Linked DNA regions of Homo sapiens. The protein of the gene in region 1 interacts with the protein of each later gene in a biochemical or structural test. Each region holds a gene or a part of one and is shown in the gene's direction. Other genes may lie near its edges. The genes, in order: WWC1, PRKCZ, FEZ1 and DLC1.

Region 1 (8,251 bases):
TGAGATATGGTCCAAAAGCCAGAGGTCTCTTCCAAACACAAGGATTTGTCTCCAGGGAGATAGTTTACTGAATTGGGCTTTGGTGTCAGGCATGCCTGGGTGAAAATCTTTGCTTCCAGTTCTGTGACATTCCGTCACATCCACTAACTTCTCCCGACTCTCTGGTCCCATTCTCTCCAGCTCCTTTGCTGACTGTTGCCAGTCCATCCAACCTCAGAATGTTGTGTGTACTCAGAGCTTGGTCCTAGGCCTTCCCTTGTTTTTGCTTCTGTATTTTGCCCTAAGATGGTGCGTGAGTCTACTAGGGCTGCCATAACAACGTACCACAGACTGACTGGGTGACTTAAACAGTGGACATTTATTTTCTCACAGTCTGGAAGCTAAAAGTCCAAGATCAGATGTCAGTGGGGTTGCTTTCTTCTGAGGTCTCTTCCCTTGGCTTGTAGGTGGCCTCCTCCTCCCTCCGTTTCACATGGTCTTCCCCCGTGCCTGTGCCCTAATCTCCTCTTAGAAGGACACCAGTCATACTGGATTAGAGTCTGCCCTACTGACCTCATTTTACCTTAATTACTTCTTAAAAGCCCTATCTCCAAATATAATCACATTTGGAGGTACTGCTGCTTAGGACTTCGATGTAGGATTTCGGGGGACAAAAATCAAGCCAGAACAGATGGTAATCTCATTCAGGTGGTGATCCATCTGATAGGGACCCCCCCGCCCCGACCTTTAGAGCAGCCCACCTGTTCAGTATTCATACCCACATATCCATAATAGAGCTCTTCTCTTCCCCCGGGATCCTCTGCCTCAGCCTTTTCCTCTTAGCAGATGCCATCTGCAGGGCCACTTGGCTGCCCGTAGCAGTAACCGCACAGTCTTCCACATTTACTCCCTCAGCCTCAGCTGCTCCTGCAGCCCAGGCACTGTCTCTGTCTCTGCATTGCTCAAGCCTCCACCATCTCGGTTACACCTCACAGCCACCCTCCCCGCCTTCAGTCTTCAGCCTCCTGCCCATTGTCCTCCCCACAGTCATGGTGACCTCAAGATGATAAGGTCTTTGCTAAAGCCCCTGCTTGGAATGTTCTTCCCTCCTGCACTTTTCCTAGCCAACTGCTGTCCATTATCCATCCTTAAATTTCTCTACTAGTCAGGAATCTAACTGCTGCAAGAAACAGCCCCCAAAGTCTCCGTGGCTTCATACAACGGGTTTATTTTTTGTTCATATAATGTCTAATTGGGTATGTCCAGTTAACAGGCAGCCTTCCATGTGGTCATTCAGGAACTCAGGCTCTTTCCATCTGTGACGCCTCCCCTTTGAGTCCACAAGAGTCCATGCAACAGACAGTAAAGAAGACACACACACTTTTCTTAACTACTAGTGCTCACATCCCATTGGCCAGAACTTGGTCATACGCCCTGCCCACCCGGCCACAGGGAAGGCTGGGAAAATGGTGGAGGCAGGGTACACACCACCAGTCTCAGCCACAGAGTCACTTGACTGGAAGAGGCTCACCTGCCAGTTCAAATTGGGCCTCTCCTTTTGTGTTCTTTTCTACCATTTGTACTTTTTCTTCATGGACCTTGTCACACACTGTGTTAATTAGATATTTGAGTATTTCTTTAATATCGGTTCTCCCCAGTAGAATGTAAGCCCTATAAGAACAGAAACAAGTCCTACTGTGCTCACTCACTACTTTATCCCCAGTGCCACAGGCAGGGTCCAGTACAAAACGGGCATTCAGTAAATATGAGCTGAAAGATGGAGGAAGGAAGAGAAGGAGGGTATGGTTGGGTGAAATCCTAATTCTGCCACTAATTCCACAGCTTTAGGTAAATTATACAACTCTAAGGGCCTCGATTTCCTCTTATGTAAAGTGGTAAAAATCATTCTTACTATGCAGCATTATTGTGTGACTGAATTAAGGCAGTGTCCTAAGGTTCCCAGCAGAGTGCCTGATATATATATATAGTGGGTGAGTGATATTGCAGTTATCATAGGATTATAATATATGTGGAAGCTCTAGCTCCCCAGATGCCGTGGTCAAATGCTTTACGGAAAGTTCTTGTGCCTGTGGGTCTGGGTGTACATGGGTAAGAGTGCATGCCTGTGCTTCCTTTTGGTGCATCCCTCGCATGCTTTCTCTCCTTCCAGGTTAAAGTTAAACAGTAAGAGGAACCAGCTTGTGAGAGAACTGGAGGAAGCCACCCGGCAGGTGGCAACTCTGCACTCCCAGCTGAAAAGGTGAGTGGTGGGCGGTGAGGCCACTGCTCCCCTGGGCATGGCCAGACATGGGTGTCCCCAGTGTCCCAGCCCAGGCTCTACCCTTCACTTGTCCTCCGTGGCTTGAGAGTGGATGTTTAGAAGCATAGCAAATGGATTGTCAGCAGACTCGGGCGTGGCCTGGTGTAGCTAGGAATAGGGGTCTTGACCTCTCCAGACTGATAGCACAAAGAAGGCCCCAGGCAGGTAATAGGTAGTCTTAAGAGACTCGGCTGGGTGTCATGGCTCACACCTGTAATCCCAGCACTTTGGGAGGCCAAGGTGGGTGGATCGCTTCAGCTCAGGAGTTTGAAGCCAGCCTGAGCAACATGGCGAAACTAAAAATACAAAATTAGCTGGGTGTGGTGGTGCATGCCTGTGGTCCCAGCTACTCAGGAGGCTGAGGTGGGAGGATGACTTGAGCCCGGGAGGAGGCTTACCGTGAGCCGAGATTGTGCTACTGCACTCCAGCCTGGGTGATAGAGCCAGACCTTGTCTCCAAAAAGAAAAAAAAAGCCTTAGGAAACTCACACTGCCACCTACCTGCACAACACAGAGAATGTAGCCTCAGACCTGGGCCTCCATGAACAACAGTGCATCAGTGGAATTCAATAACATTTTGTTCCATTAGATTTTTTTCTAATGGTGGTCTTCTCTTTGTAGTAAGTGATACTGCTTTTCAAATTACACTTAGGATGTAAAGTTTCCTTTTAATATAGATGTTTTAAAGTATTAAAACAGTGAGTTGGGGCAGGCGTGGTGGCTTACGCCTGTAATCCTACCACTTTGGGAGGCCGACGCAGGCGGATTGCCTGAGCTCAGGAGTTCGAGACTAGCCTGGGCAACACGGTGAAACCCCCTCTCTACTAAAATACAAAAAATTAACCGGGCGTGGTGGCAGGTGCCTGTAGTCCCAGCCACTTGGGAGGCTGAGGCAGGAGAATTGCTTAAACCCAGGAGGCGGAGGTTGCAGTGAGCCGAGATCGCCCCACTGCACTCCAGCCTGGCGACAGAGCAAGACTCCATCCCCCCCCAAAAAAAAAAAAAAAAAAAAAAACACAGTGAGTTGATTTCAAGAAAGATATTAAGAAATCTTTATTACATAATGGATTCAACTATGAAAACATATCATACAAATGCAACGTAGCCAATTGGAGCTTTGGGAAACACAGATTTAGAGGAAAAAGTGGACTTTTAAGGCAGCTATAACTTGAGTCCAAAGCCCAGCTCTGCCATGTCTTGATTATGTGGCCTTCTTGGGGTATCAGTTTTCCATGAAGTGGGGGTGAAGGGTCTACCCTAGAGATTGCCAAGCAAGTCTAGTGAGATCATGGTGCTTTCCAGAGCTCAGCAGAAGGTCTCAGGGGGCCCACTTCACTGTGTGCATCTCACTGTCCTTCCCCTCCCTGTGTCCCAGTCTCTCAAGCAGCATGCAGTCCCTGTCCTCAGGCAGCAGCCCCGGATCCCTCACGTCCAGCCGGGGCTCCCTGGTTGCATCCAGCCTGGACTCCTCCACTTCAGCCAGCTTCACTGACCTCTACTATGACCCCTTTGAGCAGCTGGACTCAGAGCTGCAGAGCAAGGTGGAGTTCCTGCTCCTGGAGGGGGCCACCGGCTTCCGGCCCTCAGGCTGCATCACCACCATCCACGAGGATGAGGTGGCCAAGACCCAGAAGGCAGAGGGAGGTGGCCGCCTGCAGGCTCTGCGTTCCCTGTCTGGCACCCCAAAGTCCATGACCTCCCTATCCCCACGTTCCTCTCTCTCCTCCCCCTCCCCACCCTGTTCCCCTCTCATGGCTGACCCCCTCCTGGCTGGTGATGCCTTCCTCAACTCCTTGGAGTTTGAAGACCCGGAGCTGAGTGCCACTCTTTGTGAACTGAGCCTTGGTAACAGCGCCCAGGAAAGATACCGGCTGGAGGAACCAGGAACGGAGGGCAAGCAGCTGGGCCAAGGTAGAGAGCACCATACCCAGAGGGTGGGAACCAGGAGGAGGGAAAGAGATACTCTGTGCTCAGAACCCCCCAGTGATCATTCTAGTCGATATTTACTGACTGCTTCTGTGTGCTGGGTCTTTGTATGGCAAGTATATTTATTCAGTGGATGTTTATTAACTCAGTATTTTTGAGGTCCTGTGTGAAGGGTTTTCAGTAGTAGATTCTGTCCTCCAACAGACATTTAGCACCTCATAAAACTAAATGTCAGGTCATCCTGTGCTAATGGATATACATGGATTCATCTATTCATGATTATAGATATGCTGGGTGCCAGGCACTGGGTTGGTCACTAAGGATTCTGTGTTGAAGACAGACAGGGTCCCTGTTCTCATGAAGCTTATGTTCAAATGGAGGCACAGGGAATAAACCTGCAACCAAACAAGCACTACAAAGAAAATAAAACAGGGAATGTGATCCAGCCTTTCTGGTTAGAGGTGGGACTGCCAGGGCAGGTTGGGTTGTGAAAGAAGATGACATTTGAGGGTGTCTTGAATGGTGAGATGGAGCCAGCCTTGGGAAAAGCAAGAGCAAAATCTCTGAGGTCAGAGCAAGGGACTAGAAGGGGAGCCAGGAAGCCATGAGTCAGAGGTAGGGGGTTACCAGTGAGGCTGGAGAACTAGGCAAGAGTCCAGATCCTGAAAGGCCTGGTGGGCTGTGCTAAGGAGTTTGGATTTTATCCTAATTGCACTGGGGACCCATGTGACCGTTTGAAGCCAGGAATGATATGATCTGACTCCCATTCTGCATGGGGTCAGAAAGAACATTTTGGTGTTGGCCGGAATTTAAGTTGGAATCTTCAAAATAGAAGATGATGCTGACATTGACAGCTAAGATTTATTAGGAGAAAACCTTTTTATCTTTAGCAGCAACCACATAATAAATCATAATAGTTAACTTTTATTGGGGATATATTATGAGTTGGGTAATGTGCTTGATACATGGTGAAATCAGTTATTTCTATTCTGTCCATTTCACTGGTGAGGAATTGGAGATTCAGAGAGGTGATGTCACTTGCCTTAGGTCACCCAGCCAACAAGTGAGGAAGCAGGGATAGGAACCTGAGTGTTTCTGGCCCCGGAACCCAACCCCCTTATTGTCATGCCTTAGGCTGGGAGGCAGTTCAGCATGCACATTCATGCCAACTCCTGGTGCTTGGGGCCCCACCAACCCCATCTGGCTCTGGGTGTGAAGGTCAGGACTGAGTAGGATGCTCAGTAAACTCACCTGGGCCTTCTTGGCTTTCCTGGCCACAGTAAAAATAGCTCACAATAATCATAGCTATGATATATAGCGTACAGGTGTTTAGGATTTAGGTACTTCTCTGCATATTTACTCATTTAAGCCTTACAACACCTCTGGGAAGTGGGTGCTATTTTTAATCTCCTTTTTTTTTTTTTTTTGAGATGGAGTCTCACTCTGTCACCCAGGCTGGAGTGCAGTGGCACCATCTGGCTCACTGCAACCTCCACCTCCTGGGTTCAAGCGATTCTCCTGCGTCAGCCTCCCGAGTAGCTGGAATTACAGGTGCACATCACCATGCCTGGCTAATTTTTTTTTTTTGTATTTTTAGTAGAGGCGGGCTTTCACCATGTTGGCCAGGCTGGTCTCGAACTCCTGACCTCAGTTGATCCACCCACCTTGGCCTCCCAAAGTGCTGGGATTACAGGCGTGAACCACCAAGTCCAGCCCCTTTTATCCCCATCTTAAAGATGAAAAAAGTGAGGCACAGTGAGGTTAAAAGACTTGTCTGAGGTTAGTCCCACAGAGTGAAATGGCAAGACCAGGACTGGCACAAGGACCACCTGCTCAGAACGCACACTGTTATCCATGTGCTGAGTTCTGTCTACAAAAAGCTGGTGCTCCTGGCTCCAGGTGAGGCCAGCTAGAAGCAGCCAGACCCATGTCAGCTCTGTGGCTCCAGGCATGGGCAGGAGTGGTGCTGCTGTGCCCAGAATTATCCATGTGTGTACAAGGGCCAGTGGGAGCATGGTAGGGAAATGAGGTTTCCTTGTTAACGAAAGGCTTTGAGTGCCAGTGGTTTCCTTAGAAGAGGAGCCGAGAGATCCCTGGGTTTCCCTCATCAGGAAGGGAGTCTTGCTGAGTGCTCTCAAAATAAAAGCAAGCGCCCTACTATAGCAGGTGGCAAGCCTCAGAAAATTGTTCCCTGGAGAGGAGGGGGTGCAGGTGGAACCTCTAACAAGGCTCAAAGAGCATGCCTCTGATATCAATATTAAGCCAAGTCAGGACACTCAGACCCCAGCTATGTCCTGTGAAGTGACCCCCTCCTCTCCCCTCCCTAACAGTGTCTTTGGGGCTTGTGGGCCTCAGACAGCACATTAGGCTGGGCACACACAGGTCTCGGGATGGCATTTCCTTCATGCCATCTCCAGAAGCCTTCCCTGCAGCAAGCAATGCCAGGCAGAGCTTAGACGCTAAGCAGGTTATGTGATTAGTGCCGCTGTTCAGTCAGCAGACAAATTAATCTCCTTAAGTGGTTTAGTGGAGGGTGGAGATGCGTGGGTCTGAAAGCAGGAGGTCTCCGCGGGCTCAGCAGGCATGGGACGCAGGCTCAGCTTCCCCATCACCAGCACTTGCAGTCTCCCAGACCCGCCTTGTCACCCATCGCCGTCCCCGGCCTGCCATGCCCTGGACTCTGTGCCCCTCAATGCTGCGAGCCCTTGCCCTGCTCCGGTCTGCCCGCAGGTGCTCAGAGGTGTTAGCTGTGAGGTTGTAAGATCTGGATCTGGCCTTCCCCGCTGCAAGGAGGGCAGGAATTGTCTTATTCATCTTTGTAGTTCTGAACATGGCAATGGGCCTGGCACATCGTGAGTGATCATTACTTGGGCAAGGAAGGAATGTGCAGCACGTGTTGAGTGCTTAGTTATGAGCCTCAGATCAGAGACTTTCAAGGGCCCCTGTTAAGGTTAGGGAAGAGGAGGAGCTGAATTCGGAGTGGAAAGGGATAGGCAGTGGAAGAACGGGTGCTTAATCTCTCCCTTCTCTGTCCTGAGGGTCCAGGGGCTGTTATTTTGCCCCAGGTGGGTAGGGATGGATCTGTTAGGTTGATGCAAAAGTAATTGCAGTTTTTGCCATTGAAAGTATGGATATCTACAGTGATAGGAACAGTAGTGGCAATAAGGATAGTTGTAATGAGTTTTGCAGAGCACTTTGCCTGCCTGCACCAATCTCTATATTAAGGACTTCCCTTATAATGTCTCGCTGAGTCCTGTCAACAGCCCTATAAGTAGGTATTATTATCCAAGTTTTACAAATGAGGCATCTGAGGCTTAACAGGATTAAGTCAGTATCTCAAGGTCATGAAGCAGTGAGTGGTGGAGCCGGATTTGAATCCAGGCAGTTCGACTCAAGAGCCTGGGATGGTAAAACACAAAATCACATGTGACTCCTTCCATCACCCTAAAGCAAACTTTTTTTTAATTTTTTTTTTTTTTTTTTTTTTTTGCTTTAGCATTTAGAGGTGGTTGGAATTTGGTGGAACCGTCTGTCTTCCATAGAGAGTGTATCAAAATTGGGAGTTCAGGCTCCCCGAATCCCAAAGTGTTGGGATTACAGTCGCTGACGCCTGTAATCCCAACACTTTGGAAGGCCAAAGCAGGCAGATCGCCTAAGACCAGGAGTTCAAGACCAGCCTGGGCAATATGGCAAAACCCCATCTCTACAACAAAATAATAATTCAAAAATTAGCTGGGTATGGTGGCACATGCCTGTAGTTCCAGTATTTGGGAGGCGGAGGTGGGAGGATCACCAGAACCCGAAGTGGTCGAGGCTGCAGTGAGCCATGATTGTGCCACTGCACTCCAGCCTGGATGAGTGAGACCCTGCCTCAAAAACAAAACAAAATTGGGAGTCGCAAAGGCAGTTTCCTGGTTCCTGAACCTGCCTTTCCATTTTCCTTCCCTAGCTGTGAATACGGCCCAGGGGTGTGGCCTGAAAGTGGCCTGTGTCTCAGCCGCCGTATCGGACGAGTCAGTGGCTGGA
Region 2 (7,736 bases), on another chromosome or scaffold:
CTAGCCTTTCAGGGGGGCCACCTGTTCCTGCAGCGGCTGCTTTCTGGTCCCTTTGGGGGCCCCCTCAGTCTGTGCTGGACTTAGTTCCATGGCTGTAGTGGGCACAGCTTGAGAACAGTCCCTCGGTGGGTGTCAGCTCCATGTGGGAGTGGGGCACGTGTGAGGCCTTGGTCCCCACCTGTGGACTCAGGGTCTCTTTCACGGACTGCGGGGAAGGCAGTGGGAGCAGCAGGAATGGATGGTGAAAGGACACAGTGCCCGCCCCCCGAGTGTCCGAGGGTAGAGCTGGGACAGGGTCACAGTCACCCCAAAGCCGCCCCCTCCTTGCCTATCCCCAGCTGAACCAGCACCACTCAGGCAGTCGCCGCCACTGGGGTGTGACTCTGGGGCCCGGCACCGGGTCCCCAACACTGCTTTCCTCCTGGAGCCTGGCCTCTGCACACTGCCCTGGAGAAGAGAGGCAGTGTGTGTGCAGAGGGCCCCGTCAGCCAGGCAGATCCACCTGCCTTGCCCCTGCACTGGGAGGTGGCGCTCATCTTGTCGGGGGCTCCCATGGGCCGTGTCTAGACCCCACCCTCCGCCGGTCCAGGCACATCCTCAGGCTCCTAATCCTGAGTCCTCCGGTTTGGCTGTGGGAGCAAAGGCCGTGGGGAAGTTGCTGGGCCTGTCCCGGGTGAGCTTTGAGTGATGGACAGGCTCATTCTGAAGGAACTGGGTCCAGACAGCACGTCCTGGCCTGGTGGCTGGGGCTGCCACTCTAAGAGGGTCCCCATCCCCGCAGGATCCCCGGTACTTGGCACACTGCAAAGCCTGAGTATTTGTGGATCACGTGATCTGTGCTAGTGACTATCAGGAGTCTGAGATTTGAAGCGATGGATTTCCCAGCATGGTCCCAGCTCCCCACTGATGTGAAAGGTGGTGGTGAGTTAACAGCTGAGCCACCACCTGCTGCCCAACCCCACGTGTCCCACATGGCCGGGCGGTGCTGCGCTAACTCATCTCCCCCTGGATGGAAACGTTTGCGTGGTGACAGCCGATTCTCTTGAGAGTCATTTGCTGCCCATGTTGCTGGGGAGATTCTGCCTCAGGGCCAGGAGTGGTTTGCTCCTCCCACCCCGGGCCCAGGGCTGCTGGTGGGAGGCCCCAGGGAGGAGCAAGGACTCTAATGCTTCGTGTGGTGGGAGCCTCAGGACTTTCCCACGTGCGACAGGCACGTTCCTGGGAGCTCGGTGGGAGGAACCCAGCCACGTTGTGTGCTGCGCAAGGAGCCGGCGGCAGGGAGGGGAAAACGGAAAGACGCAGAGGAGGGCAGGTGACAAGAGGCCCACAGAGAGATGGCTGGGTCTGGGCAGCGGGTGGGAGCAGGAGGGAGGCGGTTATGGGAGACGTGGAGCAGTGGAGGCCGTCAGAAGTGGGGATCACAGCTGTGACCTCATGGAGAGGGACAAGCCCCACAGCTGGGCTGGTGCCAGCTCCACTACCCAGGGCCAACCTGTGTGGCCGTAAAATTCTCAAGCCTGGAGTGTGTAGAAGGCAGCAGTGCCCTGGCCTGGCCACCCGCGAACCCCTCTGTCCACCCCATGCTGCGTGGCACAGGGCAGGCGTGGGGCCTCTAGCTGGAGCCTTGAGTGGGTGGATCCTCGGTGGGGCTTTAAGGCCAACCTGTTTATGAAAATGCATGGGGACTGACTGCAGATGCACAGACAACTCAGATGCACAGACGCCCGGACGACGTGGACACCCAGACGATGTGGACGCACAGACGACATGGACGCACAGACGATGTGGATGCACGGACGACGTAGACACACGGATGACTCATCCACAGATGACTCAGATGCACGGACACCCAGACGACGCGGACGCACAGACGACGCGGACGCACAGATGACGTGGACGCACAGATGACGTGGACGCACGGACGACGTGGATGCATGGACGACGTGGACGCACAGATGACCTGGACGCACGGACGACGTGGACGCACGGATGACTCAGATCCCCAGACGACTCAGATGCACGGACACCCAGATGACATGGATGCACGGACGACTCAGATCCACAGATGACTCAAACGCACAGATGACTGGGATGCTCAGATGACCGCTGCTGTGCTGCCACCCCAGGGCTCTCTGGGCGTTTCCTGTGGTTTGGGCACCAGGAGCCTGGGAGTCCCATGCTGCCCCCAGGGCACTACCTCCTGGGCCCAGCCCTGCATCCGGTGGCAGGGCTCACCGTCATCACCCCAACAGTGCAGGGTGGTCTCAGGGACCTCCTCTCATCATTGCCAAGAACTGGCTCCAGGATGTTTCCATGTGGCCGGCTAGTATGGCCAAAGTGGACCCTGGCGTGCTGTCCCCTTGGACGCCTCCAGGCCCTGCCCAGCACGTGGGGCTCGTCCATTCTGTGCCTGACCATGCTCTGCCATGCGGGGCCTAGCCCAGCCCCCCAGCCCTGCTGCTTCTCCCCACCCCACCCCCGCCACCTCCACCAAGCCACCAGCATCCTGCCTGGCCCTACGGACAGCAGGGTCGTCCTGTGTCCAAAAGCCTCCTCCCCCTCAGCCCCTTCACTCGGGTCTCATGGGGCCCCTCTGTGGCCCCCAGCGCACAAGGCACACACCCACTATGGGGCCTTTGCACAGCTGTGCCCTCCCCAGGCTCCAGCCCTCACCTCCCCCAGGCTATTTCTCAGATGTCCCTTCAGAACTAGAGCCCTTGGGCCCCCAGCCCCATTGACACGGAACGGGCCCCCTGTTGTATCTCAGGTCACTGCTGTGGTTGCAGCCACAGGGGCAACACCTGTTACTGCCACAGCGTCCGACCTGGGGCCAGCGTGCATTCAAACGCACTGCTCTGAGAGGCCAGGACGTCCATGGGTTGGGCGCAGGGGGCGGCGGTGGGAAAAGGTGTCAGGCACCATGGGTCCCGACCTGGAGCCCACGTGCCAGCTGCAGAGATGGGCACTGAAGGCTTTTGAGCAAGAGGAGGAGGTAACGCTGGCCCCTGGGGATGCTGTCAGGGAAACTGAGGCAATCTTGAGCCCTCGGAGCAGAGAACGGGCTGGGCCAGGGGCTGGAGGACCCTGGGCCAGCTCCAGCTGGGTCCTGCTCTGTTCCCACCCCTGCTGCTTATTAAACCCTTGTAAAGCAGCACAGGACTAAGGTAGGGAAAGTACTTTAGGAAATGCCCCTTTTTCACATTTTATCGGCAGGTGTTTCATACAAAGAATACAAGTAACTGATGAATGAAGGGGGCATCTTGTGTCCCCACAATCCTGCTGTGCGCACACCACAGGTGAGCCGTTCTGCCTAAGGGAACAGCCCCGGCCCCTCCCTCCGGCTCCTCCCCAGCACCGTCTCCTCCACCCAGTGGCCTGGCCGTGGATGCTGCCTGTGGCCCAGCTTTGAGACACCGCCCTGACACGTGTCCAGCCTTACGTGGAAGGATTTGTCTGTTTTGTGGCATCCTAGTAGATGCCACGTTAGTAGATGCCATGTTAGTAGAATGGATGTGGGCATTTCTTTGTAAGTTCCCAAAAGCCTATGAGGGTTTTTTCCACGATTCCGTTCCCAGTTTGGCTTTTGTTGTTGTTGTGGCTGTTCTTGGCCCCCCTGGGCCCTGCAGTGGAGTGGGGGGCTGCACCTGGGAGCCTCGAGCTGAGGCCCAGCCCCTCCTGCCCTGCATTTTCCTGCCAAGCAGCACCTGAGACTCTGAAGCCGATGCCTATACAGGCAGAAACCTGCCAATTCCAGCTTGAACGACTGGAGGGTCCTGAGGATGGGGGTCCCTGGGGTGCCATCATGGGCAGGGTGCATCTGTTTGGGTATGCTGCCCCCCAGCTGGCGGGGCACCGGGGACAGGCACAGCCACACTGGGGGCATTTCTGGTCTTGGAAGCCTTCTTGGCTCTTCCGGAGGGAAGGCGGCTGCTGGGTGCCCTGTGATCCACCCGCGAGCTGGGCTGTTCGGCTTGGTCTGCAGGGGCTGGGGGGCTGCATTTCTTTTCACCAGCTGCACCCACCCGGCCCCATCCTGGCTGGCACCGAAGGGAGCAGCGCGCCGTGACATCCTCCCCTCAAGCCTGGTGAATGGTGGTTCCATGAGGCTGGAGTCAGTGGGTGCCTGTTGTGACAGCTGGATTTCAGTGTTGGTACAGGAGCACACACCTAAGGGGCGGGCCAGTGAATGAGTGTGCGAGGGTGGGCTAGAGAACGAGCAAGGGAATGAGAGAGAGTGGGTTAGAGAGTGAGTGAGCCAGTGAATGAGTGAGTGAGCAGGAGTGGGTTAGAGAGCGAGGGAGTGAGTGAATGAGTGGGCTAAAGAGGGCCGGGCGCGGTGGCTCACGCCTGTAATCCCAGCACTTTGGGAGGCCGAGGAGGGCAGATGATCTGAGGTCAGCAGTTCGGGAGCAGCCTGGTCAACATGGTGAAACCCTGCCTCTACTAAAAATACAAAAACAAAATTAGCCAGGCGTGGTGGCGGGCGCCTGTACTCCCAGCTACTCAGAAGGCTGAGGCGGGAGAATGGTGTGAACCTGGGAGGTGGAGCTTGCAGTGAGCCGAGATCGTGCCACTGCACTTCAGCCTGGGAGACAGAGCGAGTCTCAAAACAAAAACAAAAAACAAAATTAGCTGGGCATGGTGGTGCATGCCTGTAGTCCCGGCTACTCAGGAGACTGAGGCAGGAGAATAGCTTGAATCGGAGTCAGAGGTTGCAGTGAGCCGAGATCGCGCCACTGCACTCCAGCCTGGGCAACAGAGCAAGACTCCATCTCAAAAAAAAAGTGGGCTAGAGAGTGAGTGAGTGAATGAGTGAATGGGAGTGGGTTAGCGAGGGAGTGAGAGGGTGAATGGGAGTGGGTTAGAGAGGGAGTGAGAGGGTGAATGGGAGTGGGTTAGAGAGTGAGGGAGTAAGCGAGTGAATGTCTCTTGGTGCTGCTGTAACAGAATACCTGAGCGAGCCTGGGTAATTTCTAGGGAGCAGAGTTCTTTCCCAGCTGTGGAGGTTGGGAGTCCAGGGTCATGGTGCCAGCAGGCTTGGTGTCTGGTGAGGCCTGATCTCTGCTTCCAAGATGGCGCCCAAACACTGCATTCCCCGGAGGAGAGAGGGGAGGAAGGCCACGTGTCCACATGGCAGAAGGCAGAGAGGAATCCATGCCCAAGCTGTCTTGACAGCTACAGGAGTTTGTCTGTGAGGGCGGGGCTCCCATCAGGTTCCACCTCTCTACACTGTTGCTCTGGGGAATGAGTTTCTCACTGTGAATCTGGGGGGCACATTCAGACCCTATTGTGGGTGAGTGGGAGAGCATGGCTGTGTCACTGGGACAAGTGGCCATGAGTCGGGGGAACTGAGGGGTTTTCAGTGTCCTCACCCGTATGTGTTGTGGCACCTGTGCCAGGCACCAGCGTTCTGCCCTCCCCGGCACAGGCGCATCACCGAGTCCCAGGCCCGCCTGCTGGGCATTTTCCTGCCAAGCAGCACCTGAGATTCTGAAGTCGATGCCTGGATAGGCAGAAATGGGCCGGCAGGAGGCTCCTGACAGACGGGTCTGTGCAGTGCCAGCGCAGGCAGGGTGCTGTGGCCAGGTCCTACACCTTTATGGTCAGGGTTCCAAGACGTCATGAGACGGCTTGTTCAGCCAGTTAGTTGTCGGTGCCCCTCTGAACAAGGACCCCCCCAAGGAAGGGGGTGGCCTCGCATGGGTGGCTGGGGATCCTGCTCCGTCCCACATGTGGCCAGCATGGCCGACACTGGCATTTCTCAGCTCGACAACAATTTTTCTGACTTTGGATATTTTCTAGATTTTGTGTTGTAAGAAAAAACACTTGGCAGTCAAATACTAGGCAGATTGAAATGCTGACTTTCTCACTGTTTCATTTTGTGATTGAAGTGCGTGCAAAACACTCAATCTGGTAGGGATGATGCCCGCGCGGAGCTGACCCTTCTCCTATTGTTTTTCCAAGCTGGAGAAGAAGCAGGCGCTCCCTCCATTCCAGCCACAGATCACAGACGACTACGGTCTGGACAACTTTGACACACAGTTCACCAGCGAGCCCGTGCAGCTGACCCCAGACGATGAGTGAGTCCCACTGGGTGCGGGTCCCTGGAGCACCCCTCGGGCAGCCCCATGGCAGGCCGGCACCTTGGGCAGCTGGTGACCCAGCCTGCCCTTGAGTCCCACCCGCCTGGTGTCATCTCTCCAGTGGGCGTTGGGGGAGGATTCTTATGCGAACGTGACTCCGCTTCCCCCAAGGGAATGAACACACGGTCACCCCCCTCCCCCCTGCCACCTTTGCCCACAGGGATGCCATAAAGAGGATCGACCAGTCAGAGTTCGAAGGCTTTGAGTATATCAACCCATTATTGCTGTCCACCGAGGAGTCGGTGTGAGGCCGCGTGCGTCTCTGTCGTGGACACGCGTGATTGACCCTTTAACTGTATCCTTAACCACCGCATATGCATGCCAGGCTGGGCACGGCTCCGAGGGCGGCCAGGGACAGACGCTTGCGCCGAGACCGCAGAGGGAAGCGTCAGCGGGCGCTGCTGGGAGCAGAACAGTCCCTCACACCTGGGCCCGGGCAGGCCAGCTTCGTGCTGGAGGAACTTGCTGCTGTGCCTGCGTCGCGGCGGATCCGCGGGGACCCTGCCGAGGGGGCTGTCATGCGGTTTCCAAGGTGCACATTTTCCACGGAAACAGAACTCGATGCACTGACCTGCTCCGCCAGGAAAGTGAGCGTGTAGCGTCCTGAGGAATAAAATGTTCCGATGATGTGGAAGCTCCTCTGATGCCTTTTTTCCGTGAGTGGCGCCTGCCCCACATCTCAGACGCAACCCACACGTAGGGGGGCAGCTTAGGAGCCAGCGGGACACAGGTGGGGGCGGGAGTTGAAGTACCTGTGGGGACACACCGCAATCAAGAATTGTTTCCTAAAAACCCCGGTAAGTTCCTGTTGTTCTTCCTGCAGAGTGTGTCCCAGCCGCTGTGGTCTAGGGTGAAGTGACACCTTAAGCAGATGGCAGCTGGGCCAGCCAGCTCACTGGACCGATGGGGGAAATTGGATCATAGAGATTCTAAAACGTGGCCCACCAAAGCACAGTAGACCAAAAAAGAGAAAAAACTGAACACTAAATCTGCACAAATCATTTCTGACCACACTAAGCAGTGCCTGCACGATGCCTCGTGCGACGCATTTGATTTTTGGAAGATATTCTTATCTGTCACACAGCACTGAGAGTTAGGGAAAACTAAAAGATGTGCATGTGACGGACCCCAGCCTTAAAGTTGAACGTGATGACCCTACAAACACCCAGAAACACAGGCACTCTTCCCAGCGGCGCGGACCTCCTGCTCCCGGGAACACACCCGCGCTCTCCGTCCACCCACCCCTCAGGTGAAGGCACAGCTGTCCAGAGCTGAGGCTTCCTAGAGGCAGGGCTGCCAGCTGCCAGGTGTCAGGTGTGGCAGAGCCGTCTTCTGAGCTCCCTGGGAGAGGGGGTCGCGCCACCTCATGCCTCTGAGTGAGGCCTGGTGCACAGGTGTGGAAATTGCCACGCAGCCCTCTTGGCCAGGCGCAGAGACCCCAGGCCTCCATGACTCAGGGGCCGCTCCACCCCATTGTGCGGCTGGTGGCTTGGGGAAGAGAGACGTAAAACCCCAAGTTAGGAGGTCTGTGCCGCGCCTTGCCTTGCCTCAAGGTCATCCCCAGCAGGTGAGCGTGGCCCACCCTACACACTC
Region 3 (8,251 bases), on another chromosome or scaffold:
TCTTTCTTTCTTTCTTTCTTGAGATGGAGTTTCGCTCTTGTTGCCCAGGCTGGAGTGCAATGGCATGATCTCGGCTCACTGCAACCTCTGCCTCTTGGGCTCAAGCGATTCTCCTGCCTCAGCCTCCCAAGTAGCTGGGATTACAGGCACCTGCCACCATGCTCAGCTAATTTTTTTTTTTTGTATTTTTAGTAGAGACAGGGTTTTGCCATGTTGGCCAGGCTGGTCTTGAACTCCTGACCTCAGGTGATCCACGCACCTCAGCCTCCCAAAGTGCTGGGATTACAGGCATGAGCCACTGTGCCCAGCCCCCACATCACATTTCTATGTAAGTTAGCTATCCTGGTTTTCCTAGAATTATTTTTAACTTTTTTTTTTTTTTTTTTAAAGATAGGGTCTCACTTTGTCACCCAGGCTGGCATACAGTAGTGTGATCATAGCTCACTATAGCCTCAAACTCATGGGCTCAACCAATCCTCCTGCCTCAGCCTCTCCAGTTGCTGGGATTACAGGTGTGAGCCACCGTGCCCAGCTTTGATTTTTCTAGAATGATTGATATTTATTGGATGCTTTCTATATTCTGCACATTGTACTTAACACTTCAAAGATGATCTCATTTAGTCCAAAAAGTAATCTTCAAGGGAAGCACTGTTTTAAACTCCATTTTATAGATGATGAAATTGAGGCACAGTGAGGTTGATAACTTGCCCAAAGTCTCCCAACTAGGAGTGACAGGACCAGGACAGGAACCCAAAGCCTATGCTCTTAGCCATCACAGAGTACTGCCTTAATCAACACAAATCCCTGGGCTGTGAAAACTGTTTTACTCTCTACTGCATTCTGCCATCTTTTCTAATCTCACTTTTTTGTTGCTCAGGGATTCTTAATCTTTTTTGCACTATGACCTCCTTTGGTGGTATGGAGAAGCCTGTGGGCTCCTTCTCCAAATAATGTTTTTAAATGCATAAAATAAAATACTTAGTCTTGTAAAGGAAACCAATTTCATTGAAATATAGTTACCTTCAAAGAGCCTGCAGGGGTCTATGTACTGAAGATGAAGAACCCCTGACTGGCAATTACTTGTGTTTGCTTTAGAGCTGTGTTGTCCCTTGCGGTAGCCACAGGCCACATTTGACTGTTGAGCACTTGCAATGTGGCTAGTCCAAAGTGAGATGTACTGTAAATGGAAAATATACACTGGATTTCAAAGGGCTTAGTATAAAAAAAGAATAAAAACTGCCTCATTAGTTTTTTTGTGGATTACATTTTGAAATGGTAACACTTTGGATATATTGGATTAAATAAACATATTACTTCAATCAAAATGATTAATTAAATTATTGATTTATTAAAAATAACTCCTAAAGATGTTAACTCTGTACCAACACCTTCCTTATAACAAATGAGGAAATCAGGACCAATGATGCTTGTCACTCAGCCAGCCATTGGCAGATCTGTTGGCTCTCGAGCCTGTCTTCTTTCCAAGATATGGTACTACTTGTATATATTTTTGTATTCAAAGGTCCTATCATGTTGCCTTTGCAAACTGTAAATGCTCCAAATATGTTTTAAAGCAACGGTAATCAACTTAATCCCAGCAAAATCCCGGTACAAACTGGCAGTGTTCTTGCCTGGCATGTCCTTTGCCTTGCTTATTTAGAGTTTTAGTTTTGTAGGTAGAGATGGAGAATGGGCACTCCTAGGGCAAAATCCATGAATTTTGCTGTCTGGTTCCCCTCAGGAAGCGCCTCCAATTTGAGCACCTAACTATATCAATAACCCTATAGACCGAAGAGAAAAGCTTGGTAGCCTTTCTGTTGAGCGTGTAGAGAAGGGTATGATAGTCAGCAATGCTTGTGCTGCCTGAAACTGAAAATGGAAAACTGTATGTGGGAGATAGATCATTTTTTCAACGAGCACATATTGATTGACTGCCTAGCCACAGGGTAGGCAGTGTATATTTGGAGCCAGGGAAGATATCCAGAGGATTTCTGTGTCCTCGAGGAATTTAAGTTAAAATTGAATGGGGCCCAGATGTACACACAGATGGATAAATCACAGTTGGAAGCAGTGCATGAAGATGGCCCGATGAGGGGTAGAGGTCCCACAGTTGGTGGGAACTGAAGGGAGTTCTGTGTGTGCAGCGTTCCAGGGTGCAGTGCCCAAGATGGTTATGGAGTATGGCTTTGGAGCACATGGGTAGTTGGGTCTGTTTCTTACAGGATACAGGATAATAGATCATTTAGTCTATTCCTCTGCTCCTAGGCATATGCTCTATGTGTGGGAAAACCTTGGGTGCTTGTCTGGGCACGGTGGCTCATGCCTGTAATCCCAGAACTTTGGGAGGCTGAGGCAGGTAGATCACCTGAGGTCAGGAGTTCGAGACCAGCCTGGCCAACATGGTGAAACCCCATCTCTACTAATAATACAAAAATTAGCTGGGTGTGGTGGCACACGCAGCTACTTGGGAGGCCAAGGCATGAGGATTGGTGGAACCCAGAGGTGTAGGTTGCAGTGAGCTGAGATCACACCACTGCACTCCAGCCTGGGCCACAGAGTGAAGCTATGTCTCAAAAGCGAAACGAAACAAAAACAACTCAGGCATTTATTGGAAGGTCTCTATTGATGTTTTATTAGTTTTTTTAAAAAAATAAAAATAGAGATGGGACCTTACTATGTTGCCCAGGCTGGTCTTGAACTCCTGAGTGAGCTCAAATGATCCTCCCACCTCAACCTCCCAAAGTGCTGGGATTACAAGCATGAGCCACCACATCCAGCCAATGTTTTATTAGTTTCTACTATTTATTGATAAGGGTAGTAATATCTAGGTATACAAACCCTTATCCAAAACCCCTGGGGCCAGGCATTTGGAATTCAGATTATTTCAGATTTTGGAAAGTAGTAATAGAGTGTACATTCCGCATTTCATCCAGTGGGATCTGGGATAGCAATCTTTGTAATTAAAAAGTTAATATTTCTGCAGCAAAACACACAAAATGGGATAAATTAAAGCCATGAACAGCTTTATATTCATGTTGGTCATGTTTAGTTGCCAGATGAGTTTAGATCATGTCACATTTTGCTGCCAAACAAGTCATGGAGAATTTTCAGCTTTCAGATCACATAGTTAAGGATATGGATCTGTGGTAATAGTAATAGTAATAAAAATAATAATACTAAAACACCAACAGAAAGTATTCAATAATATTGGCACTTATTATCTTCCAGGTACTGTTTTAAGCACTCACCTGTGTTTACTCCTTTAGTCTTCTAACAGCCCTTTGAGGTGGGTTCAGTATTATATCTGTCTTGAGAAGAATAAGAAGCACAGAGCAATTAATCACTTGCCCAAGGTCACAGCTGGTAGGACAGAACAGAATGCAAACCTAGACGATCTTGTCCAGGAGCTTCGTACTTAACCAGTGCCTTGTTTTTTGGAGTAGGGAATTGGAAGCAGGTGTGTCTCTAAAGTTAACTCTATTATTTAGATTAGCCTGGTCTAAACTCACATTACGCTGTTCATTTCTTTTAGATAAACTCATCCTGAAAGTCGCTGTTGTTCTCCTGCTGAGCAAGAATGGAGGCCCCACTGGTGAGTCTGGATGAAGAGTTTGAGGACCTTCGACCCTCCTGCTCGGAGGACCCGGAGGAGAAGCCCCAGTGTTTCTATGGTTCATCTCCCCACCATCTCGAGGACCCCTCCCTCTCCGAGCTTGAGAATTTTTCTTCCGAAATAATCAGCTTCAAGTCCATGGAGGACCTCGTAAATGAATTTGATGAGAAGCTCAATGTCTGCTTTCGGAACTACAACGCCAAGACCGAGAACCTAGCTCCCGTGAAGAACCAGTTACAGATCCAAGAGGAGGAGGAGACCCTTCAGGACGAGGAGTAAGAAGTCTTAATTGCCCTCTCCTGCTTCAGTCGAGAGCCCTGTAGTCCTTGTCTCCTTGACATAGTGCTGGTTTCTGTCTATAGGTTTATGGGCTATTACTTTCATTTTCGTGTTGCCAGCGGAGCAGTGCCCTGGTACTTGCTGTCATAGCTCTATATATGTCCCTTTACAGTCCCCTGAGGAGAACTTTCTTAAATTGAAACCTTAGAGGAATGAAGGTTTTCCTAGATACAAAATGGAATTTCAGGAGCACAGTAAATTTCAGGGTCTGTCTATCTTAAGCTTTCTTTATATCAGTGGAAATCCAGCGAGATATTAGAAATAAAGGCCAGAAAAAATTAATTAACCATGATGGATGAATCTATGTTATTGGACTAATTTGCTTCAAGAAACACCAGAATTTTGAAAATCCCGAATTTTTGACAGCCCCTCAGGCCTGGAGAGTTATCTACAGATGTTAGGATATGTCCACATAAGAAAGCATCTAAACTGAACTGAGAGCACAGCGGGCTACCCTGGACAAAGTAAAGGTGGAAACTAGGTGATGTGGCCTTTGAGTATGCAGATTCCTTGTATCACTTGCTCGCTACTTTCTAGGGTCTTAATAGTAGTCAAGAAAAGGGATCTGAGAAAAGTACTCTTTCAGGAGGGACTAGAAAGAGAAGGGGGTGATATGTTACACAAATTAAAGAAGGATGTCTTAGGCATTTAGTAAAAATTCAGTGGTTCCCCGCTATCCTCGGGGGATGTGTTTTTTTGTTTTGTTTTGTTTTGTTTTTTTTTGAGATGAAGTTTCATTCTATCGCCCAGGCTGGAGTGCAATGGCACAATTTTGGCTCACTGCAACCTCCACCTCCCAGGTTCAAGCTATTCTCCTGCCTCAGCCTCCTGAGTAGCTGGGACTACAGGTGTGCGCCACCATGCCCGACTAATTTTTGTATTTTGAGTAGAGATGGGAGTTTCACCATGTTGGCCAGGCTGGTCTCGAACTCCTGACCTGGTGATTTGCCCGCCTTGGCCTCCCAAAGTGCTGGGATTACAGGCGTGAGTCACCACACCTGGCCCATGGTGGGGGATATGTTTTAAGACCCCCAGTTAATGCCTGAAACCGCTGCTAGTACCAAACCCTAATGTTTTTTCCTGTATGTACGTACATATGATAAAGTTCAGTTTATAAGTTAGGCACAGTAAGAGACTAACAACAGCTCACAGCAAAATAGAGCAATTATAACAATATATTGTAATAAAAATTATGTGAATGTGGTCTCTCTTTCTCTCTCTCTTTCAAAATATTTCATTGTACTGTACAGCAGATAACCGAGCCCTGGGAAAGCAAAACCACAGATAAGGGGGGACTACTGTCTACATGAGTTCCCTGCAGAGATACAATATGCATCCATTGTTCTTAGCTATCACACAAGAAATGTCAAACGTCAGGGAAGTCTGAAGCACCTGTGCTTTTGTTTCCCTTTTTGTGGATTTGAGTGGGAAGAATGGCCCACAAATAATGGGGTAAGAGGCACGTCCTAGAGGATTGGAACCTGACTGTATTTGGGAGAGGGTTGCTTATTTGATGACTACTGTAAGACTCTACTTTTACACATAGAGGGGCCAAATATCTGTCTGATTCACTCTTACAGCCCCACTGTCTAATACAGTGCAATGTGCAAATAATATTTTTGAATGAAATATTGAATATCAAATAAACTAGATGAGTGATAATAGCTAGTAGCCTTGTATGTACATGTAATATATTTCTAAGCCCACACCATTTCCTTCTTTTCTTTTTAATTAATGCTGGCCGGAAGGTATGATCACAGAGAACATTTCATTCTGCTGACTAGTACTATAGCTGTGGGCTATGTGTTTAAATTTTAAGTTTCAAACAGATTCTTTTTAGATTCTGAGCCTGTTATCTGCTCAACATTTATAAGTCAAAAAAGAATGGCTCTGGGGGTTTATTATGCCGAATATTTTTTCGTTCTAGTGCACCAGCCAATGAACTAGAAATACAAAGACTATGAATTCTAATTTTGGTACTCTCTCTAACTCGCTGTGTGACCTTGGGCAAGTCATTTAACCCTGGTTGACTGTGTAGGTCCTCATCTATGAAACCTCCAGAGCTCAATCTTGATGAAGTGAGGCTAAGGACTTGTAAAGAACCTAATTTCTTACCTCACCCAGGATGCCCAGGTGCTCTGAAAATGACATTTCAAGATGCGTCCCATTCCTTTTGCTTCCAACAAATCATTTCCCCCCTATCAAAACCCCTCCTCTGCCTCATTAAGGATGAAGGCCCAATGAGCAGATTCTTACTGTCTTCTAGCACATTAGAAGAGGCCACTCAATGTTAATTACCATCACATGGGATTATTGGCCTCCTCAGCCTGATTTTTCTGACTTGACTGCCTCATTGACTGCCTCAGTTAAGAGACCAAAGATTGAATAATTCCTTCGAGATAAGGTATAATTTGGGGACAGTGTAGCGGGAGGAAGCTGGGAAGAGAAAAATTAACACAACACTTTCTAGGCATTCAGTTCTAACCCCTCTTTATAATTTAAAATAAAAATCAGAATTCTGTTACACACTTTGTTTCATAGACACTATCCAGATATTTCAACTGTGAAATTATGGCTAAGTAAAGGAAAAGGGTGACTTAATATCTCACCTGACTACACTTCTCCTGAACATAGCTCTAATGTTATTGTTATAAACTTGTTCCGGTTTAGTATTTAGAGGGCTGTTTCATCCACAAATGAGTGAAAAGTGCTGTGGATGGGTTAGAGGTAAATAATAGAAGCTTAAAACAAAAGCAGGGAAATACTTGGTTAAACTGCCTCCTTAAAGACAGCACAAATCATAGAGCAAATGTAGTGATTCCCTTAGAAGCTTTCTTTAGTCTTCATTTGGAACTATTTAGCCAAGAGGGGAGTTGGCTAAGATTTGTCAACTTATCTCTGATCTGTCAGGGCATGGAAGTTCTAGGCATTAAAGGAGAGTCAGATTTGAATACACATTTTTTGGTTTTGCATTCAAGAAATATCCCAGAATCTCTTCTTTGTGTATATGTGACCACCCTCTTCCTTTGCCATAAGAGATTGGGCCTGGAGGTCACAGCCTCTTAGGGGTCACTACAAAATGGAAATTGACGGCCCTCAGCTTACCTCCTACGTCACTGGGGATCCCTATCAGCCCTCTTACGAGTACCCTGAAGACAGAGGGGCTAACCATGCAATGGCTGTTTCTTCAGATAGAATTGTTATAGGTGATGTTAAAAATAAAGTGCACACAATAAACTGCCTGTCATCAGATATACTACATGTTGAAGACAAGTAAATACCAAATAGTCAGCTAGGGAAAACTACACATAATTGTGATTTTTAGAAAATTTAATTCTCTTTTTAGAGGTTATAGAAAGCGGATATAGTATTGATTCTATTTAAACATTTGAGGACATCTAGAAAGTTGAGCAAACGCATTAATGTGCTGCTAATAATTTCTACTTTCTTTCTTTTTGAGACAGAGTCTCACTCTGTTGCCCAGGCTGGAGTGCAGTGGCATGATCTCGGCTCGCTGCAAGCTCCGCTTCCTTGTTTCAAGCAATTCTCCTGCCTCAGCCTCCCGAGTAGCTGGGATTACAGGCAAACGCTGCCACGCCGGACTAATTTTTTTTTTTTTTTTGTCTTTTAGTAGACATGGGTTTTCACCATGTTGTCCAAGCTGGTCTCGAACTCCTGAGCTCAGGCAATCCACCCGCCTCAGCCTCCCAAAGTGCTAGGATTACAGGCGTGAGCCACCACGCCCAGCCACTAATTTCTACTTTCTAAACATAAAGTGCAAAGGTGTACTCAAATTAATACACATTTGGGTGTGGATATTGGCATGACTGCACACCAGCAAAACACTAGACAAGGGAAGTAGCCAGGCTTGAGGGAAATGTCAGCAAGTTAGAATTCTAATAAGCCCTTTAAGCTGCCTGCCATATTGTCAGAAATAGGTATATAAGGGTTTACGTGTGCATCAGGACTGAGAGAACCCTGATGGCTATGTTGCCAGTTCCAGGCCCTGGAGTTCTTTGTACACGTGTCCTGGCACCCCCCAGTCTCCACCCTCCTCCACTGGGTTTGCTCATACTCTGCCAGCAGCCTTTCCCAAAGCCCCTGCTCTCTGTGGCGAAAGATACTTAAGTCAATTCTACAGGCACCTAAGCCCAAGCTATAAAATATGCACCTGAAAAAGCCTTTTCTGTTATACAGGGATGGAGAGAGCAAATTGAATCTCAGGTGTCATGGCAGCATAATGATAGGAACTGAGGCAACCTGTTTAATCTTAGTTCTCTGATGAATGATAGAGGAGAT
Region 4 (8,251 bases), on another chromosome or scaffold:
TCCTGATGTTATTACTACTTAAAAGAGACACTATTCAACACTTCCTTTCAATGTCACCACACTCTACATTATTGGAATGAGAAATAAGTGCAGTAAAGTGGTGGCCCTTATAGCTGACTGCCTGATTCCTAGAAGGCCTAGTAAAAGATAGCACATCACTTCATTTTCTTCATAAGGACATTATAATTTAAAAAAAAGAATTTTTTCTCTCTCTGTCTATACCTACCCATACCATATAACTCACTACAAATACTTATGGGATGGTTTAATCTTATTCATAGAGTTTTAGATCTTACAGGCTTAAAATAGGTCAAAAATTGATCATTTGAAATTTGTCTTTTGTTTGTTTTTTGTTTCCTCTTGAAAAATGAGTGATGTCAGTGTTATAAAATGAGAATCACTCTTTAAAAACTATTACAGTATGGCAAAGTTCCAAATGACCAAGATCTAGATCAGGGATTTTATTATCAAAATAGAGACATGTCAAGAATTGCACATGAGAATTGGAAGAGGACAAGGGAACACTGAAAACTTTCAAATTTGAGGGAAGTAGTGTGAATATTGGGCCTGCTTTCCCCACACGAAAGATAAGCCCCTTGCATAAACAACATAGACCAAACAGAGTTACAGAGAAGAATGACTCTTGATTGACTTTGGTGTGATAGAGAAATACAGTGTTTACTTCTATGGTTCTGTTTTGGCTTTCAACTGATAGTTTACAGAGTTTTGATAAATAAATGGGCTAATTTTTAAGAAAGTTAAACAGAATAATAATGAATAAACTAGGACCTTGAGGCCCAGTTAAAAAAGATTGTTAATTTTGATTCAGTGGATTAGAGTATATAAATGAACTTTAAAAGATTAAACAGTGACTCAAATGCCAAAAAAAAAGGTGAAAGATAATGTAAACAGCATGCATATGAACTTGCTCATTAATTGAGATAAATGGGTGGAAAAGACAATTGCATGTGTGAAAAGGTTGTTTCTGTATTAGCTTGAAATAACAAAGTGTTTTAGCAATGCAATTCAAATAATTCAAAGAGAAAATCAGCCCTGTTAATGGAAATGAGATAGAAAAGAAGTAGGAAGATCAAACAGCAGGTTTAGATACTCAATTAGTGTTTCTTTTATTCCCAGCAATTAGCAAAATACCTAGCTTGCCAGGAATTATCAACACTTATTTGTCAATAAATGTTTGTGAAATGAATGGAAGGAAAAGCGAAGGAAAAAAAAAAGAAAGGAAAACCAGGGTTGAGGAATGGTAATGTGTGGGAGTTGGACTTCTTTCTTATTTTCCAGACATCCTGTAATAATAGAATAATAATTTCTAAAGGGGAAGGAAAATAAGAGGTTGGAAAGAGTCATCAGAGCCTGGGGCCAGAGGTTAACAACACTCTCATTAGATGACATTTCAAGTTCATTAAGCACCAGAAGGAAGCATAGGCATCCAGAAATGGTTTGAAATTAAAAGTTACATGAGGCCAGTGAGAACAGAGCACTAGTGAATTTTCCACATTTTAAATGGGGTGGTGTACCGAAAAAAATAATGGACAAAGTTAGAAAACTGGCTCTGATTTCCTCTTAACCACTTGACGCTCTGTGATTTGATGTTTGCCCCGTAACTACTTTGAGTTTCTGCTTTTTATTAGTAAAGTATGGGATTTCCAGGTCATGTTAGGCATTAGATGAGATTTCATGTGTGCAAATTGTTTTGCATACAGTATAATCAACAAGTCCTTGTTTAAAAAGGCATAAGTCAATTAATCAAGAAAGAATATGGGAGGCCAAGGCAGTCAGATCACCTGAGGTCAAGAATTCGAGACCAGCCTGACCAACATGGTGAAACCCCATCTCTCCTGAAAATACAAAAAACTTTAGCCAGGCATGGTAGCAGGCACCTGTAATCCCAGCTGCTCAGGAGGCTGAGGCAGGAGATCACTTGAATCTGGGAGGTGAAGGTTGCAGTGAGCCGAAATTGTGCCATCACACTCCAGACTGGGCGACAAGAGCAAAACTTCATCTCAGGAAAAAAAAAAAAAAAAAGAATAAAGAATAATTGTGTTTCACTCACATTTTGTTCTAATCACTCATCTATATTGAAATATCATGGACATAGAAGAGATAGTTTCAGCTCATACTCAGCCCTGGATTCTGCAGCTAAGATCAGTTGAAAGCTAAAGGAGTCATCATCACCATCACCATCACCATCATCATGATCAAGTCACTTTACATCTAGTGAGTGCTTGAAATGTGCCATGGACTAAGTGTTTTACATATATTATAATCTCATTGTTATTAACTCATTATCATTTTCCCCTCAACAGTTTTTTCATTATTCCCATTACAGAACTGAGAAAACTGAGGTACATAGAATTTAGGTAACTAACCCTAATCACCAGGGGGAAAAAAGTTATTTCACAGACATCCTCACAAAAATGGGAGACAATTCCTGCCCACCAGTATGTATTTGACACTGAGCTAGTTAATCAGTCCTGCCAAAATTCTTCCCTATCAAATTAATTAGAGCAATAATGGTATTTGTTTCATACAACATTTGTATTACTGCTAAAGGAGATAGCTTCTAAGTAACACACCGAATACAGTACTTGGCCCATAATAAGTGCTTAATTAATTGAAGGATGTTTTTACTATAATTATCATTATAAGTTTCTAATGCACTTAATATTTCTTAGGTATTAAGAAAAACACTTGGTGATAAAAATAAGCTCAAACATTTATAGGTAGATGACATAATTAAGATGAGATGATAGAGATGTATGGAAGACAAAAGTTGATAGCAGAGACATTGACCCCAGGTAGGACACCAAGCTAACAGAAGTAATTAAGTTCCTAATGACATCTTGTTCCTGATTTCAGTGAAAATTGTGCTTATGGAATGACTAAAAATGTAATTCCCTACTGTCAACTTGCTATCTGAGCACCTGGGTTGATGTAGCTATATCTGTTATTTACGCGGAGTGATTACTGTGTCTACTGTTGGAGTGTTCTTAGAAATGATAGCAAAGCTAAAAATAAAGTGACCACTTAAAGCAAAACCGCATCTCACCATGATGATGATAAAACATTATAATCCGTGTTCCTTGTTGAATAAAAATATCTTTTTATAATACAGCAAACCACATTTCAATCATACTGCTTTGCCATCAATAATAAAAAGGTCAGCCACACGTTTAATATCAACTTTAACCCTAGGCTATTTCCTGTTACATGAAAAATTTCAAGTGAAACAAGATCAGAGGAAAGGCAATACTTCTCTTTATTGTAAGAGGTTCTACAGAAAAGAGATATTATGGCAAAGAAGATAATTATTCATTAATGAATTTATTTGCAGAATTAATCTAAGGTACAATGTATTTGTAAATGCCCAAATTATTCTGCATAGGATCAAACAGTACTATTAAGAAGATTGCATACTTAAAAAAAAATAAAACATGGAGATCCAAATAAAACATAGATACTTAGAAATTACTACATCTGGCCGGGCGTGGTGGCTCACGCCTGTAATCCCAGCACTTTGGGAGGCCGAGGTGGGCAGATCACGAGGTCAGGAGATCAAGACCATCCTGGCTAACACAGTGAAACCCTGTCTCTACTAAAAATACAAAAAAATTAGCCGGGCTTGGTGATGGGCACCTGTAGTCCCAGTTACTGAGGAGGCTGAAGCAGGGGAATGGCATGAACTCGGGAGGCAGAGCTTGCAGTGAGCCCAGATCGCGCCACTGCACTCCAGCCTGGGCGACAGAGCGAGACTCCGTCTCAAAAAAAAAAAAGAAAAAGAAGTTACTACATCCATAAAGCAATATTGTCCCACATGGCTCTGTTAATTCTGGGATCTCCTAGAAACCAATATCCCCAGAAAGATCTCAGTGATATCAGGAGAATATCATAAAATATTCCCAGTTTCCTCAAATTACATGCGGGTTGCTTAAGAAAATGTTAAGAGAATCTCCAAATCTGGCTGGCTTGAGCCATAAAGTGGGTGGTAAGTCAAACACTGCCAGTATCTGCTCTCCTCTCTGCAAGAAAATTAGACACTACTGGAAGCGACATTAAATAGCAGCAACCTGGACGTAAAAATAGAGCACCGCTGAAATAATAGCTTGCAGTTTTGCAACACCCTGCTCTTTTCTCATGAGCTGACTTCTAGTGGATTGAAAGAGTTAACTTTCAAATTTGCCTGAATCACTGAGGGCTAAGAATAAAAAAAATGTTTTAAGTTGAGTAAAAACTCAGATATACCTAAAAATGGGTTAACAATAAAATAATATTTTTCAGCTGGGTACCTATTTCTTCATTTTTCTTCTAAAGACTAAACCTGATGGAACGTTGGATGTGTATTTTGGAAAAAGTGAAACACTACTTATTCCCCTTACTTGGCTCATTATAGATGACTTATTCTTTAATTTGGTAAAGTTTTTGATGCTTTCCAGACAGCCTAAAGACATGGAAGCTACTTCATATATAATATTTTAATCTCCATTAAGCAATTTGCCAATAAAACTTTTAACAGGGATTCATGTTTTCCACTAACATGTAATGAGGTATAACAAGTACATTCCAGCATTAAACAAAGTATGTAAAAGTAGAGGAATAATGATTTTGTGTGGGATTAAGACACATATTGCTACTAAAGAAAGGGAATCTGCATGAAATCATATGGAGGTAAATTCTTGCATCATGTTATTAAATGTTTATCCACCCACAGTCTAATTCTAGTCTTGTCTAATTTAGATTAGATAACATGAATATTTTAAAGGAAAAACACTAATTGTTTTTTACTGAAAGTTGGCTGTCTGGACTAGACTCATAGAAATGCTTTTTAGAAATGTGCTCTTACGGTTTTTGCTATTTGTTTGTGTATTTACATAAAGGAATTAAGAAACATAATATCTTCCCTGGGCTTTCTGGCTTCTAAGCATATGTCAAGTCAGTTTGGTCGTAAAGAGCATTCCTCTTCATTTATCACTGAGCTGTGTGCCAGTGGGAAGGCGCCCAAATGTACACAATTTAGTTTGCTAGGTAATTTGTTCTTTGACATTATCATTAAGAAAATGGGTTTCATTTTGGCTTCCACAAATGCTCTTTGTAATGAAGATTTACTTTGACATGAGTTGAAGAACTATATTAAGTTGTGCTCCTGTGATCATGTCTGTTTCCAGGTTGTTGATCGTCTTTTCTAGTTGCCTAATTCAATTCAGTAAGTGTTTTGGGGGCACATACGATGTACAAGTGTGAGTCCCCAAGAGTAGGCTAAGATACAGTAAGATTTCATATCATTACCAGATATTCAGGTTTCCAACATATGCATCTTACTAAGGTGACCCTCACCACGTAGCAACAAAATGTGCCAAATGTAGAGGTGTCTTCTTCTTCGTTCATATGCTGAGAGAGCATTTTAGAAACTGTTAAGTTGCGTTTAATTAACATGAGATTATTTCCCTTACATCTTCTCTTCCTTCCCACAGTGACTAAGCACATGCTATGCGATAGCTGTTTTATGTAAGTGTGTGTGTATATTTATATACATACATATGCACACATATATATTTGGGTGCATGTGTCTCTCTGTGTGTATATATATGTGTATATATATATATATATATATATATATACACACACACACACATGTGTGTGTGTGTGTGTGTGTGTCCATGTGTGTGTATGTGTATAAAGCAGTAGGTGGAGAACACGACCTAGAAATTTAACATGGGATGGCTAATCAGGATGAAAAACTCTAAGGGAAACCAGAAGTAATTCTAGCTATCTAAGGAAGAAGTAAGAAAAGAAAAGTAAAATGGCAGTACTGTTATGTCTTTATTTTCCCTTCCATTAAATATTCAGGATATTTAATAGAATATCCTAGAGTCAATCATGTGTTCATTTATTTATATCAATATATATGTGTACACACACACACACTCTCACAACCCAGAAGTCAATAGCGTGTTCATTTATATATATGTGTGTGTTTACATATACATATTTATGTGTGCATGTATTTGTATACATATGTGTATATATGTGTGTGTATACACACATATATATATCACATGTATTCTCAAAGGACTGCTTTATGTATACACACACATATATGTATCACATGTATTCTCAAAGGACTGCTTTATATATACACACACACATATATGTATCACATGTATTCTCAAAGGACAAAATAAGATACCTGCATTTGATGGGATGAATACAAAAGTTGCCATCTTTCCAAGTACTGTGAGTGAGGGATTCAGGAAAAGTGGGAATTTGAGTGAGAATTCCCCATTTATGTGCATGTACTAATGTAATGCTATTTATATGTTATTTTATGTATCTTAAACTTCTATTCAGATAACATTTTAGGAAAACTATGGCTTAGACAATTCCTAAGAATACCTGTTCCAAATTTCAGGAATTCCCCAGGAGAGTTAGGGAAGGAAAGGAAACTGAAAGAACTGACCTAAGAATCTCATAGAAATTGTGCTGACATTGGTGACATAAGATAAATATCCAAACTGGCACCTTTTCTTTGCTACGTACATGAGACTGGTGTTTGTGTAATTGCGAGGGGATGCTGTGGTGAGGGGGAATGGGGCAAAAAGAATGGTTTGGCCCCACCAGACATATTGCAGAAGAACTGCAGTCGTGTTTATGCATCAGCTTAACCTTAAAATTACTGCTGTAGAACATTTTAAAATTTAAATTATTTTTAGCATGAATTCTGAAATCCAGAGATAAGACTTTCTTAGCAAATGGCACACAATATCATAATACTTTAAATTATTTTTAGCTATGTCTTCTGATATTTAACTCTGTATTTCTAAACAATATGATTGTACTATGATTTTTTTTTCTATTTTAAACATTATCTGTTAACTTCCTGCTACAGAAAGTGACTATCTCCCTTAAATTATTTTCCCTGCTCTCCCTAATCTCACTCCTCACAGAATCCTATGCACTGAAAATCATTGCTTCATATGTTTTGGTTAATTTAATGTTTACTATTTGCATTATTTTGACTACATGAAAAAAATTAGCCACAGCTTATGGAGTATACTATAATTATATTTTCCTTCTTGTAAAACTATTTTTCCTGTGGTTGATAATTGATATCCCTAGTGTTCTCTATAACTATTAATAATTCTTCCATCCAAATTGCTTGACTTTATTATAAAATTCCTCTCAATATGTCATATATAATTTATTATTTCCCTTTTTTTAGAGACATCTCCCAGAGACAACTTTAGGAGTTATGTGAAATGATTGACCACTGGACTTGCTACACAACTTTTATCCTGAAAATTCTATACCTTCCTCACTTGTGCTGAATTCTTGGCTTCCTTTTGCCATGTCTTTCCCACTGTGTTTATTTTTTAATTTGGGGTTAGCTATCTCTCCAGTAGCTTTTGAGAAGAGGTTAAAAAAAAAGTAAGACTTTTCATATAATTTTAAGGCAGACATAATTTCCCATCCAAATTTTGAAGTCGTATTTGCCTGTCGTCTTCCCTGCACTGTTACTTTTGACAAATCTGATACCATTGATTCCCAGCTCCTAATATATCATCTCTTTTTCTCTTTCTCCGATTACATTTAGAACCATTTGCTTACCTCCTATGTTCTGAAAATTCACAACGACATTTCTTACGTGGTCTATTGTTCTTTCTGGTACCATTGCATCCTCATGAGTTCCCTTCAATCGGAAGACTTGAATCATTTGTTCTGGAACACATGCTAAAATTGTTTTCTTTGAAAAATTTCTTCTCTTAATGTTCTCTGAAGGCCGGGCGCGGTGGCTCACGCCTGTGATCCCAACAGTTTGGGAGGCCGAGGCAGGCGGATCACCTGAGGTCAGGAGTTTGAGATCAGCCTCACCAACATGAAGAAAACTGTCTCTAGGAAAAATAAAAAATTATCCTGGCATTGTGGCACATGCCTGTAATCCCAGCTACTCGGGAGGCTGAGGCAGGAGAATCACTTGAACCCAGGAGGCAGAGGTTGCAGTGAGCTGAGATGGCGCCATTGCACTCCAGCCTGGGCAACAAGAGTGAAACTCTGTCTTAAAAAAAAAAAAAAAAAAAAAATTCTCTGAAATGTTTCTGATAAATGTTACCCTCCAAGGTAACTAGTGAGTTTTCGAGTTGCAAGCAATTCTCTGGAATTTATTGTTACCTCTGCTATCTTTTCCAAAGAGGTAATTCTAGAATAGTAGAAATCTGAAGCCAGAAAGAAAGGAAGATTT

Evidence for each region.
Region 2: the proteins of WWC1 (region 1) and PRKCZ form a complex in vitro, tested with the Homo sapiens proteins (one study listed by BioGRID).
Region 3: the proteins of WWC1 (region 1) and FEZ1 form a complex in vitro, tested with the Homo sapiens proteins (one study listed by BioGRID).
Region 4: the proteins of WWC1 (region 1) and DLC1 form a complex in vitro, tested with the Homo sapiens proteins (one study listed by BioGRID).

The regions. Positions count from the first base shown.
Region 1 is NC_000005.10:168,419,859-168,428,109, forward strand, and holds part of WWC1 (protein KIBRA), read left to right. Parts: intron 1-2,149; coding exon 2,150-2,239; intron 2,240-3,674; coding exon 3,675-4,210; intron 4,211-8,174; coding exon 8,175-8,251. UniProt on the Homo sapiens protein: Regulator of the Hippo signaling pathway, also known as the Salvador-Warts-Hippo (SWH) pathway.
Region 2 is NC_000001.11:2,178,619-2,186,354, forward strand, and holds the end of PRKCZ (protein kinase C zeta type), read left to right. Parts: intron 1-1,695; coding exon of another isoform or gene 1,696-1,908; exon of another isoform or gene 1,909-4,123; intron 4,124-4,952; exon of another isoform or gene 4,953-5,257; intron 5,258-5,858; exon of another isoform or gene 5,859-5,964; coding exon 5,965-6,080; exon of another isoform or gene 6,081-6,303; coding exon 6,304-6,391; 3' UTR 6,392-6,659; downstream 6,660-7,736. UniProt on the Homo sapiens protein: Calcium- and diacylglycerol-independent serine/threonine-protein kinase that functions in phosphatidylinositol 3-kinase (PI3K) pathway and mitogen-activated protein (MAP) kinase cascade, and is involved in NF-kappa-B activation, mitogenic signaling, cell proliferation, cell polarity, inflammatory response and maintenance of long-term potentiation (LTP).
Region 3 is NC_000011.10:125,485,104-125,493,354, reverse strand, and holds part of FEZ1 (fasciculation and elongation protein zeta-1), read left to right. Parts: intron 1-3,532; 5' UTR 3,533-3,577; coding exon 3,578-3,888; coding exon of another isoform or gene 3,889-3,892; exon of another isoform or gene 3,893-5,156; intron 5,157-8,251. UniProt on the Homo sapiens protein: May be involved in axonal outgrowth as component of the network of molecules that regulate cellular morphology and axon guidance machinery.
Region 4 is NC_000008.11:13,503,964-13,512,214, reverse strand, and holds part of DLC1 (rho GTPase-activating protein 7), read left to right. Parts: intron 1-8,251. UniProt on the Homo sapiens protein: Functions as a GTPase-activating protein for the small GTPases RHOA, RHOB, RHOC and CDC42, terminating their downstream signaling.